7 linked regions of the Homo sapiens genome follow. The protein of the gene in region 3 interacts with the protein of the main gene of each other region in a biochemical or structural test. Each region holds a gene or a part of one and is shown on either strand. Other genes may lie near its edges.

Region 1 (2,581 bases), on a different chromosome or scaffold from region 3:
TCTGCAGTAGGGGACCCAGAGTCCCAGGCCCCTGGAGTTGTTTTCGGCAGGGGCCTTGTCTCTCACTGCATTTGGTCAGGGGGGCATGAATAAAGGCTACAGGCTCCAACGTGTGTGGCAGCTTTCGGTCTTTCCCTCTGGGTGCTTGGTGTCCCATCTCTTTTCATGTCCAAGTTGCTTGCCAGCCTGGCCCCCTGTCTACAAAGCAGGCCAGTGGCCAGCAGGGTGGAGTCTTAGAGCAAAGGATGAGGTCATGCCTGGCTCTGGGCCAAGGAGGCGGGTGAAGGGAGTGGTCTGTAGCAGGGGGCTAAACTTAGAAACCTGTGGGTGGCTTCCCTGCCACCTCCCACTGGGTTTCCTCCCCCGAGTGTGGGGGCTGGGTTCCTCTCCAGCTGGGAGGGGATGTGACCCTCAGCAGGGCTGAAAGTCCCACCCTTCCCTACAGGGTCAGCTTAGGGGCTCAGGAAGCTGGGGCCAGGCAGAGGAGACATTATCAAGGCTTTTGCATAGAACAAGATTTTGTTTTCAGAGTTTTCTTCCTTCCCCTTCCCCCAATTGTTAGCAGCTTGATGTGTCATTCTCCCCAGCAGGGGAGGGGGTGGAATGGCTTGGGTTGTAAACTCCCTCCCCCAGCCTTCCTGTCCCTTGGAGGGGCAGTTCAGCTGGGTTCTGGTTCAGGGTCAGGCAGGCAGTTAAGGCTTGGCTGGTGCGAGAAGGCTGGGTGCTGTGTCTTCAGAGCTCATTCCTCCACTCTGGCTCCACTTGCAGAGACAGGCCCCCTTCACCCTCCCGCTCCTGGGGGAGGTAGTCATGGCTGTGGGGCCCTGGAAAGAGAGAAAGTACACTGTGTCTTCCTTACCACCTCCTCTGGCACTGTCCCCACCCTGGCCCAGCCATACCTGAGGTAGAGGGGCTGAGCTTGCTCAGACCTTGCAGTAAATTCTGTCCCTGTTGCAGGTCCAGTTTGGCAGGGAAGGGACACCCGGTATACCCTCCGTTTTCTTTACAGAACTCCAGGAATCTGTGGGGTACAGAGGAGTGCCAGCAGAGACTGGAGGCTAAGCCACGGTCCTGTCCCATCTGAGCTGTACTTGCTCAACCTCTGGATGTCATTTAACTTATAAATACAATAGTGATGCTGTGAAAATGGACACATCTGAGGATTAACTGAGCGATAAGCAAGCGCTTAAAAAAGATCCACCTGCCCTAGGCAGGGGCTGTGGCCACTAAGAGGGAGAATGGGGTGGGAATGCTCACACTTTCCAGTCAGGGTCATGGCCCAGGAGAAGGGGGTTCCCCACGATGATGAGCAGGGCCTTGGCCCGGGTCACAGCTACATTGAACCTCTGGAAGGAAGAAGTGGTGTGGTCATGGGAGGGAAGAGCCCCGAGAATGGAAGAATTCCTGCCACCCCGACCAGCCCTCAAACCTTGGGGTTCTTAAGGAAACCCAGATTAAAGTCCAGATCCAGCTGCACAAAGCTCTGGCTGCTTCGCACGGTGGAGATGAGGATGACGCTTCGTTCTTGGCCTTGGAATTCTTCTACTGAACCCACCTAGTGGGGAAAGAGGCAGGGCCTGAGACCAGCCAGGGGTGTCAAAGGGGTGCCCTACCCCAGGGAGCTTGCCTTCCAAGGAGGGTACAGAGAGGTCACTGGGCAATTGTAGATCAGTGAGTGAACCAGTGCTGCGACACGGCCCAGGGAAAGGGGATGGGAGGTAGGCTGTGGAAGCTGAAACATGAAGGTTGAATCCTGCTGAGGGCTGGGGCCTGCAAAGTGTTCTAAGGAAAGAAAACAGCATTGCAAAGAACACGGGAACTCAGAGCAGTGACTTTCAAACTTTCCTGAAAACAATCACTAAGTATCTGTTAAGAATATACAACCCTGGGCCCTAACCCGGACCCCCGATCAGAATTTCCAAGAGAGAGGCCTGTAAGTCTTAGAGCAGTGTTTTCAACCCTGGCTGCATATTAGAATCACCTGAGAAGCTGTAAAAACTACCAGTGCCCTGGCTCTGCCCCGATAGCTGTATGAGCTGGTGGGTGGGGCCCTGGCATGGGGGCGGGGTATTAAAAGCTCTCCAGGTGATTGTTATCTGCAGCCAGTGTTGAGACCAGAACCTTAAGAGAGAGGCTACTGGGGGTGGGGGTGGCAGCATCACATGACAGGCCACGGAATTTGGACTTTATCCTTAGGGCAGAGGCCTCAAACCTGCCTCAGTCTAAGAATGACAGGAGGTGTTTGTTAAACATGCAGGCTTCCTGATCCCATCCCAGACCCTTAAGTTGGAATCTCCAGGAGTGAGAGGCTCAGGGAGAGCTCGAGCTCTATTCAAGGCAGCAGGGGTGGGACGGGGACGTGGGCTGGAGTGGAAGCTTGAGGAAGTCTCTGGAAGTGGGCAAGTGGGGGCACACGGAAGGCAGGGAGTGACTGTGGAACAGCATGTCACCTTCAAGTCCTTGATGTCATCCAGTCCTCGAAGCTCCCTGTCAAGTTTGGTGATGCAGTAACGGATTTTCTCCACCTGGAAGGAGGGGACAGGTGCCTTTCTCTCGTGCCATTAACCTAATGCAAGAGGGA
Region 2 (3,500 bases), on a different chromosome or scaffold from region 3:
CTGGGTTTATGATCCTTTACACTATGTGACCTCTGACACATCGCTAGCAGAGGTTTCAATCAAAATCTGTTGCTTTGGGCCAGGCTTGGTGGCTCACACCTGTAATCACAGCCCTTTGGGAGGTGGGGTGGGAGGACTGCTTGAGGCCAGGAGTTTGAGACCAGCCTGGTCAACAAAGAGACATCCTGTCTGTCAAAAAAAAAAAAAAAAAAAAGTTAGCTGGGCATGGTGGTTCCCACCTGTAGTCCAAGCTACTCAGGAGACTGAGGCGGGAGGATGATTTGAGCCCAGGAGTTTGAGGCTGCAGTGAGCTATGATCACACCACTGCACACCGGTTGAGTGACAGAGTAAGACCTTATCTTGAAGAAAAAACCAAACCAAACAAAAACAAAGGTTGCTTTGGTCATATTTGGTGTATCATTGTGTCACAGTCTGCCTTTTTGTTCTTTGTTTTATTACTCCTACGTTAAATATCAATAGATCATTTTGAATTGGACATTTGATTCAGTAATAATTTTTTAGGCTCTTACTACAAGTATGAGGGTAATGAAGATCATAAAATCAGTGGAGAAAACAGTTCTTTGTATGGAGAAATTCACAATTCTACAAGGCATGAACAAAACATGAAATAGAAAATCAAGTTGAAAGCAATAAGCTGTTGTTAACTGTGGGTCAGGGATGGCAGTTACTTCTGTGTTGGGCAGCTTGGGGAAAGGAAGATGAAGGACAAATGGAGATTTTAGGCCCTCTGGTGGCAGAGAAATGAACCTTGAAAGCAGGCTGAAATGATGGCATCCTGGTTGTTTTCGCTTTCAGACGTCAAGCCTTCTAATGTACTCATCAATGCTCTCGGTCAAGTGAAGATGTGCGATTTTGGAATCAGTGGCTACTTGGTGGACTCTGTTGCTAAAACAATTGATGCAGGTTGCAAACCATACATGGCCGTAAGTACATTAGCTAGGGTGGCATCTGGTAATGTCACTGCCGACAAATCATGCTGGGAAACAAGAAATGGATGGCCACAGAGGGAAAATGGAAATGTACCTAAGACTCCAGAAGTAGTCTGCCTCTTAGTATTTCTTCAAAATTTTATGTCTGAAATCTTTACTCACTTGCTTCGTATATTGTCTTAGTTTGTTCAGGCTGCTATGGCAAAGTAATGTAAGCCAGGCAGCATATAAACAACAGAAATTTATCTCTCACAGTTTTGGAGGCTAGGAAATCCAAGATGAAGGCACCAGAAGATTTGGTGTCCAATGAGGGCTCACGTTTCTCAGGATCATACATAGCACCTTCCTGCTTAGTCCTCGCACGGTGAAAGGGGCGAGGGATCTCTCTAGGGCTTTTTTAATAAGGGCCCCAATCCTATTCATTAGTATTCCACTTTCATGATTCAATCACCCCCCAAAGGCCCTGCCTTCTGATGCCACCACATGTGCGATTAGGTTTTAACCTGTGGATTTTGGTGGGGCACAGACATAGTTATATATATATTACTTTAAAAAAATCAAGTGAAAGAGATACGTTATTTGAAAAAATATATACACAATACATATAGCCTGCACAGTTTTCCACACTGTATTGCAGGGGAGTATTACCTTGTTTGTTGAGGACAAAATAGTAAATAGAGCTTAAATTACCCAAACAAGGCAGTTAGATTAGTTATGAGAGGACCTCACAGCTGTGAAGATTCACCGTCATTAGCAGAGACCTTGCAATCCCCTTTAACTGGAGGAACGGCCACTAGATTCTACCTGGAAATGGACTTGTGCTTTGAATTGAAAAGCTTCCTGTCTGTGTTTAGCTAAAAATTGCTCAGGTCTATTAGCATGGGACAGTAGCCCAGTGACACTTGTTTTATTGAGTTCTGGACTGTTCATGTTTTAAACAAGGATAATTCTAGATGGGCAAAGTAGCTTTATAATGTATACCCTGTTTCTTCTTAAGGCAAATTTTAAATTTGTTATGAAAGGAACTTGATCCATTACTGTGTCCAAGAAAAGACAAACACAGAAGAAGGGAAACCCCACGGAGGCATTGATATTTGTTGTAGTTAACCGGGTCTTCTTGGCCTTGGTGGCATGTTAACAGCTTATAACAACTCACTTGGCAGCTGGTGCTACCCCCATCCCCAGAGACTATTGAGCTAAGAACGTTATCTCAATTGTCTTCCCAGTTTCTCAGTTGTCTGTCTTCTTTCCAGCCTGAAAGAATAAACCCAGAGCTCAACCAGAAGGGATACAGTGTGAAGTCTGACATTTGGAGTCTGGGCATCACGATGGTAGTGTATGCCAATCATCATGAACTATGAGGTTGTGGGTAATGAAACTAGAATGAGGTGGACGTTGGGTTCAAGAAACAAATGCCCTAAATGCTGGTTTGGGGCGCCCTCTCCTGCTGAGCTGGTAGGAGATTTTGAGTAATAATTGTTTGTATTGTGGTACAATAAAAACACTGATATGGGATTGGGGAAACCAATCTTTCTCTTGATTCCACCTCTGACGAGCTGTATGCCTTTTTGAGTAATTGTTACAGTCACATGGACTATCTTCCTATCCTCCTCTGTAAAACGAGAGGATCTGACCAGATTCCTTATAGTTTAAAATTAAATTATTCGAGCCAAGGCAAGAAGCTTAAGCTGTGCAAAGAATGCTAATGTGCGTGAACCCTGATAGGGCCGTGTTATCCAGGACATAGACTATGCTTCCCAGGATATTTTTATTGGAGAAGTAGAAGTCAAAGTCTGATCAGGTCAGTGTATTAGTTCGTTTTCACACTGCTGATAAAAGCATCCCCAAGACTGAGTAATTTAAAAGAAAAAGAGGTTTAATGGACTCACAGTTCCATGCAGCTGGGGAGGCCTCACGATCATGGCGGAAGGTGAAAGGCACATCTTATATGGCGGCAGACAAGAGAGAATGAGATGAGACAGCCAAGTGAAAAGGGAGATGCTTCATAAAACCATCAGATCTCGTGAGACTTTTTCACTACCATGAGAACCATAGAACAGTATGGGGGAACCACCCCCATGATTCAATTGTTTCCCACTGGGTCCCTCCCACAACATGTAGGAATTATGGGAGCTACAATTCAAGATGAGATTTGGGTGGGGACACAGCCCAACCGTATCAGTCAGGTATATCCTCAATACATGATAACCAATAGGATGATTTCCTTAGACACAGCCCTAAAGTTATATGATTTATTCATAACTTATTCATAACTTTGGTGATTGTAAATTTCATAACTTTGGTGGTCATACATTTTCAGTGGATCACCAAGGTCTGGAATTATCCACTGTGGTCCTGGCTCCTCCCCAGGCACAGCAGCTGAATAAATCCCATGAGTTATTTCTCCTGCCTGCCCAGAAAGCACATGATCCTGTAATGCAAAGTGGCCTTTTCTCAAGTCCAAAAAAAGATCTGTCATTTGGTTCTAGGTTGCTTTTTCTCCCTGTCATTTCACCAAGGGACCTGAAGGTGGCAGTAGATGCTCGGCT
Region 3 (3,136 bases):
AGAGAGTGGGAGATATCCCTCTGTTGTCCATCGAAAGATAAAAATACAGGCTTTCAGCCGGGTGCAGTGGTGCATGCCTTTGGTCCCAGCTACTCAGGGGGCTGAGATGGGGAATCCTTTGAGCCCAGAAGTTTGAAACCAGCCTGGGCAACATAGTGAGAGACCTCCATCTTAAGGGAATAAAAAAAAAATCAGACTTTCAATATGAGTAACAAGTTATTTTTAGGCCTTTTATGACTTTATAAATAGGCAATAATGAACACCAAGGGAAGCAAAACACTGAAAAGAATTTTAAAATTTGTTGTAGAACATTAATACGAAATTTGAAACTGCAAAACAATGTAAAATTTAATGTCATGTTGTCATTTACTTTTGTGTATATTGTGCCATGTTTATTTTCAAAGTCCTATCTAGAAATTCTAAAATGTCTAATTTTCTTAATTAAAAATCCAGAATTCTGTAGTTTCTGAAATTCAAAATAAATACTTTAACATACCAAATTGGTTTTTCTAATAAACATTTATTTCAAGTGTTATTTGTTAAACATTTAATTGTTGAGATTTGAAAATGAACATTATTATTTATTAGACACATTTTATAGGCTCATTCAAAATTCTTAACTTTTGAGTTCCTGCTTTCTTCACAGCAGTGCACTCACTACTTTCTGGTATACAAGAAGAACAGCTTGTCCCCACTCTTACAGTGTAATGAAATTAGCAGTATAATGAAGAAAAGTGCTGTGTAGGAATGACTGAGCTCTAAGACAAACTGGTAAGAACAATTAGGTACTAAACAATGGGAGTACTAGGGAGAAGATTCATTTTGAGTGGGAGATGTTGGAACACTTTGGAAATAACACTGAATTTGGGTTCTGAAAGATGGATATAATTTTGATATGCAAAGTTATGAGGAAAGAGTTACTGTATAATCCAGCCATTCTCCTAGGAATATACATCCAAGAGAAATGAAAACAAGTCCACATAAGATTTGTACACAAAAGTTCATAGTAGCATTATTCATGGTAGCCAAAAAGTACAAACAACCCAAATGTCCATCAGCTGATGAATGGATACATAAAATGCGACATATCCATATGATAGAATATTATTTGGCAATAAAAAGGAATGAGATGCTGATTCATGCCACAGCTGGGATGCACCTTGAAAATATACTCAGTGAAAAAGACCACATGTATGATTCCATTTATATGAAATGTCTAGCATGGGCAAATCTATAGAGATGGAGAGTAGATTAGTGGTTACCTAGAGTTGTGAGAAAACAGAGTGAATACTAACGGGCATAGGGTTTCTTTTGGGGGTGAGAAAAATGATAGTTGCACAACTCTGAATATAGTAAACACTACTGAATTGTATACTGTATAGGTGAATTGTATGGCATGTGAATTATATCTCAATAAAGCAGTTATTAAAAAAAAAATGAAGAGAATTTCAGATAGAAACCACAGGAGAGAGCCACTGAGTGCAAAAGCCTGTTGAGGTAAAACTGCAGACCTGCATGGGTGGGGCTTACTCGGGAAACACTGAATATGGGATGCATCATGGAAGCCTCCAGAGGAGCATGGCCTTGCCCAGTGAACTGCAGCCCAGTGAATCTCATTTTAGACTTCTGGCCTCCAGAACAGAAAGAGAATAAATGTGTGTTGTTTTAAACCACCAAGTTTGTGGTAATTTGTTAGTTATAGCAGCCATAAGAAATTAATACAGGTCCAAATCAAATTAACCCCATAAGAGCCACACAGATTTGAGAAGCATTTTATTTGCCTCACAGTTTTGCCTATTATACAGTTTCTAGTTATTTAGAATTTAAGCCAATAATGTCACCATATAACTATCAACTGTGATTCCCTTCATCTATGACTATTTTTAAGAAATGTAAGATTTGGATAAGTCATAATCACAGATCAGAAACTGCAGACATTGAGGCCTGGATGGCCGTTTAGAGAGAAAGAGTTAACATTTCAGTGGAGACCTTTCCTATCTTGTATTTCCTACAGTCTCCTCCTATCTTCAGTGCAGTGTTCTGGCAGCACCTCAAGCTCACTGTCACCAAATGGGATTCAACGTCTTTCCTCCCAAACATGCTCTACCTCACCATGTCGATAGATGTACAGTCGCCCCACTACTGGCTTAAATTCTAAATTACTGAAAACCATGTAACAGGTAAAAGTGTGAGACAAAGTACCCCTCAAATACATGTGGCTCTTGGGGTTCATCTGACTGAGACTTGTATTTACTTGAATGGCATCAGAATCCTGCTACTAACCTTCTAACAAACTTGGAGGTAATCTTTGATGCTTACCTTTCCTTAATCCCCACATCCAATTAGTTGCCAACTCCTCTTGGTTCTGTCCTCTTATTGTTCAGGCCCTCTTAGTCTTTCCACTTCTGACCTTTCAAATATAGTTTCCTCCTGCTCTATTCTAAACATGCTAGTTTCAAAGTATTGGTTGGGCCATACCTTGCTTTAAAGAAATACTCATTTGTCAACTGTGGAGGTTGCTAGGGCACTAACTCACTCTAAAATTTGATAAATATTTATCGCATCTTTCCCATTCAGATTTAGAGAAAGTTCCTTAAAGAAGAATCATAGATGATAAATGCAAGAGGTTTGATAGAACCAGAAAATCACTATTTTACAACCCCTGAAATGAAATAATGGATCCAGGCAACAATTATCAATAGCTGCTAAAACCATCAGGTGAAAGATTGATGAGAAACTTTGTAGTAGTTGGTACCACCAGAACTCATTGATCAATATTAAAATCACTGAAAGTGGAACAATCAGACATCATGTTCCTCCTGAAATGATGTAAGAGAAAGTGTATAGCATCACCTATGGAGTATTCTTGGGGGAAAATAAATGAACCAGGATCAAATCCAGCTTCTAGGTCTAACTGGACACTCTGGGGATACTCTCAGTCAAATCCTGAGTGGAGGAAATTCCACAGGACAAATAAAAGCCGAAAAGAACTAAAACGCAGGGGTAAATTTTACAGAGTAAAGGAGACACATCAACCAAATGCAATGTTGGATCTAGATTTCAACAACCAAGAAAACTGTATTTTTGAGATAGAAACAATACAGACTATTATATGATAATTAAGGAAATCTTGTCA
Region 4 (3,500 bases), on a different chromosome or scaffold from region 3:
GACCTTTCAAATCTTCCACGGGCTAGTCTGTCTTTTTCTAAATCTCATTATTCACAGTCCCTTCCACTCAGGTCAACTGGTGTCGCTTTTTTTTTTTTAAAGGCAGAGTCTCACTCTATTGCCCAGGCTGGAGTGCAGTGGTGCGATCTTGGCTTGCCTCCCGGGTTCAAGTGATTCTCATGCCTCAGCCACCCAAGTAGCTGGGATTACAAGCATGGGCCACCACGCCCAGCTAATTTTTGTATTTTTTTTTAGTAGAGAAGGGGTTTCAATATGTTGGCCAGACTGGTCTTGAACTCCTAACCTCAAGTGATCTACCCACCTCCGCCTCCCAAAGTGTTGGAATTACAGGCGTGAGCCACTGCACCTGGCCCTCCATGGTTACCTTCTCATTCGCTCACATTCAAACCAGACCCATTGAGACCTAGCTGAAATGCAACCTCCTCAATTGAGAAAATCTGTGTGAAGATCCTTGGCACAGTGGCCCGGAACACAGAGGGTAACATAATGAATGGATGGAGGATGGGGGAAGGTTACTCTCTAGGAGATAGTGGATGGAGGATGGCCCAGGGATGGCCAAGCTCTCTTGATATCTTCGGAATAGGTAGGACCAGAGGGTCAATGTGTGGTCTTTTGACACTTAGTATCCTGAATTCCAGTTCTTGCTCAACCAGATAGTGGCTGTGGGAACTTGGGCAAGTCACATAGCCTCTCTGAGCCTCTATTTCCTTGCCTGTAAAATGGAGACAGGGATAAAACCTGTCTAACCAGATTATTGTGAAAATGCAAAGTACTTGCTACAATGCTCTTTAGCTTCCCAAAGCTTCAAAGCACTGTCTGGATGGGAAGGATTCCCAGGCCCCCATCCCAGTAGCCCCTTCCACAGGTCTCACGAGAAGTTGGGGTTCACATTGACATGGTGGGTGCCCTCCACCTTCCGCAGGTCGCTGCCATGGCCCACAGCCACCATGCAGTTGATGCAGAGTAGCTGCACGTGCTCCACTGGGAACTGCTGCCGCTGGTTCTCCCGCTGGGCTGCCTGGGCCGCCCGCTTGGTCAAGGCTGCCTGCTGCAGATCCCGGATCTGGGGTGGGAGGAGACACCAGGCATGGCTGGGGCCTAAGAGAACGTTCCTTGGGGGACAAAAGGTTCCCAAAGAACTAAGATCATTTGTACCTGGAAGAGACTTTCCTTAACCCTCCCTGGAGCTTAAAAGAAGCTCTATTGCTGTGATGATGCAGTAACTCATGCCTGTAATCCCAGCATTTTGGGAGGCCAAGGCGGGTGGATCACGAGGTCAGGAGTTCGAGACCAGCCTGGGCAACATGGTGAAACCCCATCTCTACTGAAAATACAAAATTAGCCGGGCATGGTGGCGCATGCCTGTAATCCCAGCTACTCGGGAGGCTGAGGCAAGAGAATTGCTTGAGCCCAGGAGGTGGAGATTGTGCCATGCACTCCAGCCTGGGTGACAGAGTGAGACTCCGTCTCGGGGAAAAAAAAAAAAACAGCTATGGAGAAAAACAGTATGAGTAGTCGGGGGCAACAGTGGGAGGGGTAAGCTTTCCTGCTCAATCTTGAAGGACTTTAGGCAAAGCTGCTTCTGTGAATCTGTCATGGGGCATCATTAACAATTATGCTGGGACAACAGGGAGCACCCTGGACAAGGCAGGATGGTGGTGGCCCTGCCTCAGGGGAACTGATGATATAAGTCCTAGTTCTGGGCTTATCTTCTGCACGTGGACTTATCTTGTCCCCTCTGCCTGGTTCCAGAAAGGCTGTAATGCAGCTCTTCCAGATACATAAAGTATCTCATGGCAAAGATAAATAAAGAGCCTTGGACAAGGCCTGTTCCCAAGGCCTTCTGGAGTCCAGGTACTGCCTTCCCTGGCAGCCCCACCCCGGCCCTTATTTAAACCTTCCCTAGGTGGCCAAAGTTAGCCCCGAGATGTAGAGGGGACAGGGGGACGTATGTGTGCAGTCAGAAACCTGCCAGGGAGGGGCTCCCTCCTCCCCATCCCTCCCACAGGGCATGCAGGCTGCCTGCAGACCTTGGCCTGGTACTCGGCCTGGTCCATTTTCTGCACAGCAGCCACTGCCTGCTCCATCAGCGTCTCCAGCGCCTCGTTGATCAGCTCCCGCTTCAGCTCCCGGCTACCTTCAGTTGCTACAAACGCGTATACACTCTGATCGGCCCGGGCACGGCCCCTGGCCTGGGAAGAGAGACAAGGGGTGTCCTGAGTTGGGCTGGGGCCCCACACAGGATCCTATAAGGGCGGCTGAGTGGAGGAGGATGTGAGTACCTGGACCATGGAGATTTCATTGGTCAAGAGCCCATAACGCACCACCACATTGCAATGTGGGATGTCCAGCCCCTCCTCCGCCACACTCGTGGCCACCAGAAGGTTCAGGGTTCCATCTTGGAACTTCTGGATCACTTCTTGCTGGTCCCTCTGCAGGCGGAGGGCAGGGAGGAGAAAGAGGCTGGTACATGAGGAGGCTCAGACTGACTCCACCTGCCAGAGTAGCCTCTTCTGGTTCAGCCCTCACTCCCAATCTTGGTCCATCTCCCTAGAGTACTTGAATCCCATCTTTATCCCCAGGTACCCCCAGGATCTTGCCCATCTTCCCAGGTAACTGTCCAACCCCTATCTTCCCTAGGGACTCCTAAGGGTCCCTGCCCCTCTAGTCTAGGAAAAACTCTCAAGCCATAGTCTTCTGCAAGGGACCCCAGACCTGATCCTGTGCCCTGAGGAACTGCATCACCCACCTCTTTCCCTACGGACCCCCATGCCCAACCTTCTGCCCCCAAGGACCTCCAGACTGGGAGAGGCTCCAGCACTGGGGAGGTCAGTGTCCGCCCCTCTCCCCTAGCTCCTTGCCCCTCTGCCTGGGGATAGTCAACTTTCTCTTTCCCCAGGGTCTCCCTGCCCCCACCTCTCTGTGCTGAAGACCCTGTTCCCCGCACTTCTCTCCTATGGAATCCCTCCCAGCGCCAGCATCTTTCCCCGAAGCCCACACCTGGGTCATGTGGGTGCTCTGGCTGCTGTTCCCAGCCCCAATCAGTAGCTGGGCCCGGATGTCCACAGTCTGCAGGCCCTGCTGCTGCTGGAGCCAGAGCAGGAGGGAGTGTGCGCTTTGGCGGGTGCGGGTGAAGATGATACCCCGAGGGCTGTTAGAGCTACTGAACTGCCTTTGCAGGATCTTTTCCAGCATCTCCAGTTTTGGATTCTCTGGGCCATGAGTTGCCAAGTGGGCCAGCTCATTCTTGCGGTCTGTCAAAAACCCCAAAATTTAGCTGGGTGTAGTGGCACATGTCTGTAGTCCCAGATACTTGGGAGGCTGAGGGCAGAAGGATCGCTTAAGCCTAGGAGGTCAAGGCTGAAGAGAGCTATGATTGCACCACTGCACTCCAGGCTGTGTAACAGAGTGAGACTCTGTCTGGGAAAAAAAAAAAGAAAGCAAGAAAGCAAGAGAAAGAGAGAGAGAGAAAGAGAGAA
Region 5 (3,500 bases), on a different chromosome or scaffold from region 3:
CTCAATCTCCTGACCTCGTGATCCGCCTGCCTCGGCCTCCCAAAGTGCTGGGATTACAGGCGTGAGCCACCGCGCCCGGCAAGACTTGCCAGAGTTTCTATGATCACTAACGAAAGAATGACTTTGATATAGTGTGGATATTTGTCCCTACCCAAATCTCATGTTGAAATGTAATCTCCTGCTGGTGGCTCACGCCTGTAATCCCAACACTTTGGGAGGCCGAGATGGGCGAAATCACTTGAGCTCAGGAGTTACAGACCAGCCTGGCCAATATGGCGAAATCCCATCTCTACTAAAAATACAAGAATTACCCGGGTGTGGTGGCACACGCCTGTAGTCCCAGCTACTCGGGAGGCTGAGGCAGGAGAATTGCTTGAACCCGGGAGGCAGAGGTTGCAGTGAGCCAAGCTCGTGCCACTGCACTCCAGCCTGGGCAACAACAGAGTGAGACTCCGTCTCAAAAAAAAAAAAAAAGGAAATGTAATCTCTGCTGTTGAAGGGTCACAGAATGGATCCCTCATGGCTTGCTACTATCCTTGTGATAGTGAGTAAATTCTCATGAAATCTTTTTTTTTTTTTTGAGATGGATTCTTGCCCTGTCGCCCAGGCTGGAGTGCAGTGGCACAATCTTGACTCACTACAACCTGCACCTCCTGGGTTCAAGCAATTCTCGTGCCTTAGCCTCCCAAGTAGCTGGGAATACAGGTGCACACCACCACGCCTAGCTAATTTTCTGTATTTTTAGTAGAGACGGGTCTCATCATGTTGGCCAGGCTGGTCTCAAATGCCTGACCTCAAGTGATCCGCCCACTTTGGCCTCCCAAAGTGCTGGGATTACAGGTGTGAGCCACTGCGCCCAGCCTCTCATGAGATCCTGTTGTTTATTTTATTTATTTATTTATTTATTTTTGAGATGGCATCTCACTCTTGTTGCCCAGGCTGGAGTGCAATGGCACGATCTCAGCTCACTGCAACCCGTCTCCCAGGTTCAAGCGATTCTCCTGCCTCAGCCTCCCAAGTAGCTGGGATTACAGGTGCCCACCACCACACATGGCCTTTTTTTTTTTTTTTTTTGAGACTGAGTCTTGCTCTGTTGCCCAGGCTGGAGTGCAGTGGTGTAATCTCGGCTCACTGCAACCTCTGCCTCCCGGGTTAAAGCTATTCTCCTGCCTCAGCCTCCCAAGTAGCTGGGACTATAGGCGCAGACTGCCACGCCTGGATAATTTTTTGTATTTTAGTAGAGATGGGGTTTCACTGTGTTGTCCAGGCTGGTCTGGAACTCCTGAGCTCAGGCAATCCGTCCACCTTGGCCTCCCAAAGTGCTGGGATTACAGGCGTGAGCCATCATGCCCAGCCAATCTTGTTTAAATTGTGTGGCACCTCCCCAACTCTCTCTCTCTGGATCCTGATTTTTGCCACGTGACACGCCTGCTCCCGCTTCACCTTCTGCCCCTGAGTGAAAGCTCCCTGAGTCCTCCCCAGAAGCCAAACAGATGCCAGCACCATGTTTCCTATACACCCTGCAGAAATGTGAGCCAATTAAACCTCTTTTCTTATAAATTACCCAGTCTCAGGTATTTTTTTATACCAATGCAAGAACAGCCTAATACAGACTCAATCCAACTTCCACCAGTGTTTACTGAGGCCTACTATGTGCGAAATGCTGGCCAGGTGCTATGCATCGTAAAAGCACACAACAGGCCCTGGCTACAGGGAGCTTCCAATCTAGTGACAAAATGATTAATTCAGAATAGACTAACCATGAGAACGAACAGGTATGGTACCGAGGAAGATTGGAGAAAGATTGCATTTGGTCAACAGAATTAGGAAAGGTTCATGAAGGAGATGGTATAAAATACTAGCCTAGAAAAATAGGATTTTAGAGGCCAGCCACGGTGGCTCACACCTGTAATCCCAGCACTTTGGGAGGCCGAGGTGGGTGGATCACTTGAGGTCAACAGTTTGAGACCAGCCTGGCCAACATGGTGAAACCCCGTCTCAACTAAAAAAAAAAAAAAGAATTAGCCGAGCTTGGCAGCTGGTTCCTGTAATCCCAGCTACTACGGAGGCTGAGGCAGGAGAATTGCTTCAACCCAGGAGGAGGAGATTGCACTGAGCCGAGATCGTGCCACTGCACTCCAGCCTGGGCGACAGAAGTGAGGCTCCATCTCAGAAAAAAAAAAAAGGATTTTAATAAGCAGGGAGTACGCAGAAGGGGGCACTGGGAGGAAGCATGGCAAAGGCCATGGCAAGGGTTGGCACAGATTCTAAGCACCATGCAAAAGGAAGGCTATAGGAAAGGCCTTTGGAAAACCACCCAAAGAAATGTGCAAGAACTACATACTGGGGAGAGACTTTCACAGCCCTCAGAGCTGCCCATCCCAATAAGGAAGGGCATGAGGTCACAAGCACAGTTGCAGTCTTACCTTTTCTGAATGAGTCCAGGCTGAACATTTCTGGCCAGGAGGGAAAGCTGGAATCCTGAGAACAAGGAGGGCCAAGAGGCAATGGTTAATATTCCTGGTCCAGCAACCCACAAAGAAGACTTCAGTAACATGGAGAGCACTGTTCAGAAAATGAAAAAAATGAAACTCTTCACTAATGAGCCCCAACTGCTGCTCCCCAGTCTTGAGGACTGGAAGGCCAGCTCCACTCTAGAGTAATTGTCTTTGCTTCTTTCTAATTGAGCACTTTCTTCCCTGTCCTAAAACTCCCCATATCCTGTTAAACAGAGGGAGATGCATTTCATCATGAGAGACATGTAGTTCTATCTAGTTCATCATAATACTTACAGGTTTCCTTCCCAGTTCATCATAATACTTGCAGGTTTCCTTCCTAGTTATCATAATACTTGCAGGTTTCCTTGGGACTTCCAGGAAGAAACGAAATTCTACATGGACCCCTTCTGTCATGTGGCATCAGGAAACAGGACTGATGACTGCCTTATGGGCAAACTGCCTTACTGGGCTTTCATAAAACCTAGTCAAGACCCTAAAAATGAGATTTGACTGACAGGATCAAAGAATAACTGTACAGTGATTCAGAATAAAAAGCTTTTCATAGCAGTCTCTATGAAATAACAAATATTAAGTTAAAGCACAACTATTAGCCAAAAGTTTTGGTGCATTTTGCTTATTAGTATATTTAACTGAGGACTATACTTAGAGATGACAAGAAAAAAAAGCAACACATCTGGTTTAACAATTTTGTTTTAAAAAATACTCAAACTCAGATTTATAGATGTTTTTATAATCCAGTACTCCTTGATTAGTGCAGTAACCTTAAATGGACTTTGTTTAAAAACATCTACACAGTGTTTAGCCAATCAGAATCATGTCCAACATTGATTGGAGTCTACTGGGGCCAACACTCCGGCTCCTGACTCCTGTTCCCTCTCATTCTCAAATTGTGGGGAGGTGGGGAGTGGAGGGCTGACCTGGGGCGGAATCTTTCAGGTCCATAGCAGGTCTGCCCTGATGGCCTCCACTCCCCAAGGGATG
Region 6 (3,500 bases), on a different chromosome or scaffold from region 3:
CATGCTGTTCTGGTGCAGGAGACACTGTGGACACCGTGGGGACACACGGGCACCGCTGCCTCCCCCACAACGGGCAAGAGACGCACGTCAGACAGCAGACACCGTGGGGACACACGGGCACCGCTGCTTTCCCCACAATGGGCAAGAGATGCGCGGCAGACACACAGCGCAGCAGACGGCGTTACCACTGCAGGGAGTGACCAGCTAGGAGGACCGGGTATGCGGGCTGCAGGATCTGGAGGAAGAGCTGCAGGAAGCGGGAGGAGAACGGCCAGGGAAGAGGAAGGTCAGGAGTGACTAGGGTGAGGAAAACATGGGCCCAGCTGGAGCAGGCTCGGCAGGACAGTGCCCACGAGAAAGGCCCACGCGGGAACGGACCTACTCTGGCCACGCTGCAGGGGCTGAGCGGGGGCAGTGGGTGGGTGCGGGGGGCTCCAGGCCTGGACGGGCTGAAGGTGGCGCCTGTGCTGAGGGTCAGGCCTGAAGGGCAAGAGGTGGACATGAACCTGGAGCACCAGCAGCACGAGGGCTTTGGGCCTCAGCTTCCAGAGTGTGGGGCAGCCACCTGCGGACACGGGGGAGAAGCCGGGAGGGTGGCCCGAGAGCTCCACCTTGGGCACACGGAGTCCGGAGTGCCCACGGAACACCTGGGGAGGCCATGTGGCCATGGTCCGTACCTAGGGATCTGGGGTGGAGCTGAGTGGTCGGCTCAGGCTGGGGCCAGCACATGGGTGTTTAGACCCACAGGGATGCAGAAGTCACCGGGATGTGTGGGCAGAGAGGGGAGGAGGGCTGAGGACCAGACCCCTTGGCATCCCACTGGGGCCCCAGGAGACAACAAGGGGAAGCAGCGAGGGGACGCAAGCAGGGAACCACCTGTGTGGCCGCCCAGAAGCCAAGAGAAGCAGGAAACAGGGGCTGAGCTACCTGGCCCAGTGAGGAGGCAGGAATGTTTCCCACCACTGGAGCTGCGCCACAGAAGGCTGGGTGAGCTCACGTGGAGGAAACAGGCTGCCTGTGGTGGGCTCCAGGGTGCGGGAGAGGACCAAGGGGGGCCAGAGGCGTGGGCAACGCCAGGGCCACCTCCAAGGCCCAGCCAGCTCTGGAGCTTGAACTGTGTGAGGTGGAGTGCCCTGCGGTCACCAGGCCCTGCCAGGAGGTGGCGGCTGAGGACGGGTGATGGCACTGGCTGGCCTGGTGGCAGCTGGCACAGGAATGCATGGGCTTACGGGAGTTCACTGGGTGGGCAGAGGGATCGGCCACACCAGCACAGTAACAGCTGCACAAGCAAGGGTCTGAGACACGCCGCGAGGAAGGGGTGACGGTGTAGCTGTGCTCACCACACCATGAAGCCCCTGAAAGCAAGTCTTATTTGTGAGGTCCACGGCGATTCTTCTGCCTGCTGTATTTGTGCATTTCTATGAAAGCCGCGTGGCTCACAGTGTGTCTCCTTTCCCTGCATTTCTACGAAAGCCCGCGTGGCTCACAGTGTGTCTCCTTTCCCTGCATTTCTACAAAAGCCCGCATGGCTCAGTGTGTCTCCTTTCCCTGCATTTCTATGAAAGCCGTGTGGCTCACAGTGTGTCTCCTTTCCCTGCATTTCTACGAAAGCCCGCGTGGCTCACAGTGTGTCTCCTTTCCCTGCATTTCTACGAAAGCCCGCGTGGCTCACAGTGTGTCTCCTTTCCCTGCATTTCTACGAAAGCCCGCGTGGCTCACGGTGTGTCTCCTTTCCCTGCATTTCTACGAAAGCCCGCATGGCTCAGTGTGTCTCCTTTCCCTGCATTTCTACGAAAGCCGCGTGGCTCACAGTGTGTCTCCTTTCCCTGCATTTCTACGAAAGCCCGCGTGGCTCACAGTGTGTCTCCTTTCCCTGCATTTCTACGAAAGCCCGCGTGGCTCACGGTGTGTCTCCTTTCCCTGCATTTCTACGAAAGCCCGCGTGGCTCACGGTGTGTCTCCTTTCCCTGCATTTCTACGAAAGCCCGCGTGGCTCACGGTGTGTCTCCTTTCCCTGCATTTCTACGAAAGCCCGCGTGGCTCACGGTGTGTCTCCTTTCCCTGCATTTCTACGAAAGCCCGCGTGGCTCACGGTGTGTCTCCTTTCCCTGCATTTCTACGAAAGCCCGCGTGGCTCACGGTGTGTCTCCTTTTCCTGCATTTCTACGAAAGCCCGCGTGGCTCACGGTGTGTCTCCTTTTCCTGCATTTCTACGAAAGCCCGCGTGGCTCACGGTGTGTCTCCTTTCCCTGCATTTCTACGAAAGCCCGGGTGGCTCACGGTGTGTCTCCTTTCCCTGCATTTCTACGAAAGCCCGCGTGGCTCACGGTGTGTCTCCTTTCCCTGCATTTCTACGAAAGCCCGCGTGGCTCACGGTGTGTCTCCTTTCCCTGCATTTCTACGAAAGCCTGCGTGGCTCACAGTGTGTCTCCTTTCCCTGCATTTCTACGAAAGCCTGCGTGGCTCACAGTGTGTTTCCTTTTCCTGCAGTCTTACAGACGGTTTTCGTGTGATCAAAATCGGCGTTCAATCTGCCGATTTTGGCTTTCACTTGAAAGACCACTAAGCAACCACGGGCCGGCCCCGAGGCTGACCGAGGGCTGCTCTGTGGGGAGGGAGGGTGCAGGCACCGGCACTGAGGCCAACAGGAAGCCACTCACGCAGCACACACCAGGTGGCGGGGGTGCCGGCCGCGCCTCCTCCAGCTGCCGGCGGGGGTCCGGGAGGTGTCCTTGGGCGTACTCAAGCCTGGTGGAAGAGCCAGGCCCTACACAGAGCAGACGCCCACCTACACCCACTACTCATCACTTGAGTTATGTTTGGTAGAACCCGGGGTCAATGCCAATATCTTTCACACAGATCGTTTTCAACATCACACAGGTTTCAGGAAAAGCGGGAATCAGAAGTTCTGTTTGCCCGCTTAGGAAATGCAGTATAAACGCCGAAATCCGAAATCCCACCCCCACCGAGCGCACCAGCCCCAGGCAGGCAGGAGGGTGCCCCAAGGCCCACCTGTACCACCGTGATGTTCAGTCGGCCCACGGTGCCCACTGCGCCTCCGTACTGCAGCTGCTGGGCCGCCTGGGCGTCCAGCTGGACCTGCCGCTGCTGCTGTGTGGGCGTGATGCGGAGGAAGTCCTGCGGGAGCTCACCGATGTACACCTGCGGGGCCGGGGACCAGAGAGGCCAGTGAGTCAGGGTGGGGGCACAAAGCAGCCCGACAGCAGCTGCCCCCGGCATTCCCGCGGCCCCGCCCCCACCCATGTCCTTATCAAGTCCTGGACTGTGCTCAGCCTCAGTTTCCTCATCTCTAAACGGAGGGGTCAAGGGTGTCCAGCCTGGGGCCTGGCCCCCAGCGGTACAGGTGCAGCCCTCACTCAGGAGATCCCCAAATGCAGGTTTCTGCCGCTAAAAATGGGTTCCTGTCCTCAAAGCCTGCTCAGGTGGGTTTTCAGGTCATTTTAAAGGGTCTCCCTTGCACCATGTGTGCCCACGGCTTC
Region 7 (3,500 bases), on a different chromosome or scaffold from region 3:
AATGAACATACCTGTATGAAATTATAGGGACCCTGCATTTGTGCCATAAGGTCTTGTACTCGCTGTCTTCTCACAAGGGGATCTGCCTGAGCCACTGGAGTCAAAGAGTGGGGCTCTGGTACTGAAGGGGATGCAGCCTGAGGTTGCTGCTGGAGTGAATTTACCACCTAAGGTAGAAAAAAAAGGATTAGAAGGAATAGGAGAGCAAAAAAGCTCCACTCACTACCACCATGATGGGTCCCCCACACTACATAAACCATCTATACTATAAACAGAACGGGCTTTAATGCAGTTACCCAAATGAATTACATTTATGCCAAATTTAACATTCTGAAAAATGTCATCACTTCTACAGTGTTTCAGTTCCATAAGACCACTATGTAGCATTTCATGTTGATTTACTTATTTATTTATTTTTTTTTCTTTCGAGACGGAATCTAGCTCTGTAACCCAGGCTGGACAGCAGTGGCGGGATCTCGACTCACTGCAACATCCATCTCCCGGGTTCAAGCAATTCTCCTGCCTCAGCCTCTCAGGTAGCTGGGATTACAGGCACCCATCAACACACCCGGCTAATTTTTGTATTTTTAGCGGAGACAGGGTTTCACACCATATTGGCCAGGCTGGTCTTGAACTCCTGACCTTGTGACCCACCCGCCTTGGCATCCCAAGTGCTGGGAATACAGGCATGAGCCACCATGCCCAGCCTCAGATTTATTTTATAAGCTGCTTTCAAAGAAAGATTACCTGTGTTTACATCCTAAAATAATGTATTTTTCTTAAAACTGTTATGCCTTCTATAGTAACTGGATTTATATATCTATGTCAAATATATATCTATCTCACAACCTGGTACATAGCACTCAAGAAATGTTAGCTATTATTATCATCAAGATTTGGGTTTTTCCCATTCCATTTTCTCAGCCAACACCATAGGATCAAGCTTTACCAACTCATCTAAACTGCTACAGAAGCCAAAGCTCACTCTATTAGCCTTTTCCCAGCTCTAATAATTTCCTCTGCTTATTGTTCTTAGTAATTCCCTGCTCTGCAAGGAAATCCTATCTTTTATTACATCAAATTTATATTATTCTGTCTGGATTTAAAACTGGACAAGTCATACTGGTTGAAACTAGGCAAAATCAGCTATTCCCTTTATAAACAACACAGATAAAAATCACTACCAAAGCGAAACCAACAATCTGTGTAATACCAACTTCAGGATGCTCCAAAAATTCGTGGAATCTCATGTGGATAGCCTTTAGAAAGGCCCACCTACTAGATACAAAGAACAAACCACACTGGCACAGTGGCAAGTAGTATGCTCTTCTCAAATAAAATCCAAAAAATACTTAACTACAAAGCACTGTATACTGCTTCCCAACTTCTTCCTACTATGTCAATATTTACCTTGCATTCTATGTTCAATAAAACAAATATGTTAATAGTTCATTTCTACTTCTACATCCATGCTATACATCCCTATTACCTGGCTCCCCTAAAAACATACATCCCATCGACTTAGTCAAGGCTCAATGGGTTTGTACACCTCATATATACAGCTGACATTTGAACAACATGGGCTTGAACTGCACAGGTTCACTTATCCTCCAGTACTCTTGAGATGTGAAACACCTGTATATATGTGGGTCCCGCAGATACATGGCACAACTTGAGTATGAGCAGACTTCGGTGTGTGGGAGTGTCCTAAAACCAATGCCCCTGGTATAACAAGGAACAACTGTAAATCACCTCTACTAATCTTTTTGATTGATTTCTCTTCTAATCCTCCTATAACATTTCTGAACTGCATTCTTTAATTCAGCAAATATACACTATTTTGTTGGGACTTCCTGAGCAGTATTTTCATCCCAAGTACCTTTCTGGGGTAAGTGCCTACTCTCTTTACCTTACCAATGGGACATTTTGGTGCTCCAACAGAGGGATGAAGTTGCTGGCACAATTATAACATCTATGGGCCAGGCGCAGTGGCTCATGACTGTAATCCCAGCACTTTGGGAGGCTGAAACGGGCAGATCACTTGAGGTCAGGAATTCAAGACGAGCCTGGCCAAAATGGTGAAACCCCATCTCTACTGGGCAAGAGTGAGACTCTCAAAAAAAAAAAACTTTGCAATCTCTTTGGAAAATGGGTTTTTTTCTTCTTGAGACAGAGTCTCTGTCAACCAGGTTGGAATGCAGTGGCACGATCTCAGCTCACTACAACTTCTGTCTCCCCAGTTCAAGTGATTCTCGTACCTCAGCCTCCCAAGTAGCTGGGATTACAGGCATGCACCACCATGCCCAGGTTTTTGTTTGTTTTTGAAGTAGAGACTGGGTTTCACCATGCTGGCCAGGCTGGTCTCTAACTCTTGGCCTCATGTGATCCACCTGCCTCAGCCCCACAAAGTGCTGGGGTTACAGGCATGAACCACCGTGCCCGGCCAAGAGAATGGTCTTGATATAAGAATAACATATTAAAAGGAAAAGCATATTACCCTCAGCTTACAGCTATTTTCCTGCACCTTGGGGGTGTAAAGAAAGACATCTAAAAGAAGATCAAAAGGAAGGCCAGGACCAGTTGGTAAGGTTTTTAGACTGTATCTTACAGGTAACAAGGCATCACTGAGAGCCTCAAGTACAAGTAACTTAAAGCTAACTTTTCCAATAATTAAGTTGTGACAATGAATAGGATGGTCTGGAGGCAGTCAGAGAGGAGTAATATGAAGAGAGTCACTGAACTAGACATGAGGACCCGAAAAAAATCATCATTATCAGTTGAGAGACAGCATTAGAAAACGCTAGAGGAAGTCTACAGCCTGGTGACCAAACAGCATTAGGGTAAAGGAGGAGTGCAAGATGATACCCCAAAACACAGCTATCAGTGTGGGAGCCCAGATTTTTACAGAGCAACCTAATTTCAGTAAGAGACAAATCATGGTAACAGATTAATCCACAGATAACTTTGTATAAAATAATTTTTTTAGATTGGTTCAGCAAAGCAGGGATCCTATTAAACATCCACAGGGATAAACATTCATTTTTTGGAAGTAACAGTCTGGTGTAATGAGTCTGTTATTATAATAAATGTACTAATAATGCAAAAAACAATCTTAATTTGTTCTCAGTAGAGATAAAAATTACTAACTGAAGACAAAGACAACAACTTTGCAATACAGAGAACTCTTACCTCAACCGTTTCAACTGTCCACTCATCTACCTGCTCCTTTTCACCACTGGTGAACTGTGTTTCTGCCATGAACTGTCTATTTACATACTGCAAAGCAAAGTAAATGTTTGAGACATTTGTTTGAAAGGCAGCAAAGTAAAGGCAGCATTAAATTAAAATCATACCTCTGTTGATTCAACTTCACTTTGCTCAGTGTACTCTTCTGCTGGCTCAGGTTCTAAGAGGTTAAAAAATGGTGCAAAACAAAAGGATTTTTAGGTCAGTGATACTACTCTACTCTGTGTGATATTGGTAGATACACGTCATTATGC

The links.
Region 1: the proteins of EIF2AK2 (region 3) and MOV10 form a complex in vitro, tested with the Homo sapiens proteins (one study listed by BioGRID).
Region 2: of the proteins of EIF2AK2 (region 3) and MAP2K6, one has a biochemical effect on the other in vitro, tested with the Homo sapiens proteins (one study listed by BioGRID).
Region 4: the proteins of EIF2AK2 (region 3) and DHX58 form a complex in vitro, tested with the Homo sapiens proteins (one study listed by BioGRID).
Region 5: the proteins of EIF2AK2 (region 3) and DHX30 form a complex in vitro, tested with the Homo sapiens proteins (one study listed by BioGRID).
Region 6: the proteins of EIF2AK2 (region 3) and TOLLIP form a complex in vitro, tested with the Homo sapiens proteins (one study listed by BioGRID).
Region 7: the proteins of EIF2AK2 (region 3) and CAPRIN1 form a complex in vitro, tested with the Homo sapiens proteins (one study listed by BioGRID).

The regions. Positions count from the first base shown.
Region 1 is NC_000001.11:112,698,659-112,701,239, reverse strand, and holds the end of MOV10 (helicase MOV-10), read right to left. Parts: coding exon of another isoform or gene 2,567-2,581; exon of another isoform or gene 2,526-2,566; coding exon 2,451-2,525; exon of another isoform or gene 2,427-2,450; intron 1,783-2,426; coding exon of another isoform or gene 1,669-1,782; exon of another isoform or gene 1,556-1,668; coding exon 1,430-1,555; intron 1,347-1,429; coding exon 1,258-1,346; intron 1,022-1,257; coding exon 900-1,021; intron 825-899; coding exon 733-824; 3' UTR 501-732; downstream 1-500.
Region 2 is NC_000017.11:69,522,697-69,526,196, forward strand, and holds part of MAP2K6 (dual specificity mitogen-activated protein kinase kinase 6), read left to right. Parts: intron 1-817; coding exon 818-945; intron 946-2,204; coding exon 2,205-2,282; intron 2,283-3,500. UniProt on the Homo sapiens protein: Dual specificity protein kinase which acts as an essential component of the MAP kinase signal transduction pathway.
Region 3 is NC_000002.12:37,098,710-37,101,845, forward strand, and holds the end of EIF2AK2 (interferon-induced, double-stranded RNA-activated protein kinase), read right to left. Parts: 3' UTR 501-3,136; downstream 1-500.
Region 4 is NC_000017.11:42,102,715-42,106,214, forward strand, and holds part of DHX58 (ATP-dependent RNA helicase DHX58), read right to left. Parts: intron 3,276-3,500; coding exon 3,022-3,275; intron 2,454-3,021; coding exon 2,304-2,453; intron 2,214-2,303; coding exon 2,052-2,213; intron 1,085-2,051; coding exon 894-1,084; intron 1-893.
Region 5 is NC_000003.12:47,809,638-47,813,137, reverse strand, and holds part of DHX30 (ATP-dependent RNA helicase DHX30), read right to left. Parts: intron 2,482-3,500; 5' UTR 2,455-2,481; coding exon 2,427-2,454; intron 1-2,426.
Region 6 is NC_000011.10:1,292,633-1,296,132, forward strand, and holds part of TOLLIP (toll-interacting protein), read right to left. Parts: intron 3,163-3,500; coding exon 3,013-3,162; intron 1-3,012. UniProt on the Homo sapiens protein: Component of the signaling pathway of IL-1 and Toll-like receptors. Inhibits cell activation by microbial products. Recruits IRAK1 to the IL-1 receptor complex. Inhibits IRAK1 phosphorylation and kinase activity.
Region 7 is NC_000011.10:34,082,731-34,086,230, reverse strand, and holds part of CAPRIN1 (caprin-1), read right to left. Parts: intron 3,407-3,500; coding exon 3,354-3,406; intron 3,277-3,353; coding exon 3,190-3,276; intron 168-3,189; coding exon 12-167; intron 1-11. UniProt on the Homo sapiens protein: mRNA-binding protein that acts as a regulator of mRNAs transport, translation and/or stability, and which is involved in neurogenesis, synaptic plasticity in neurons and cell proliferation and migration in multiple cell types.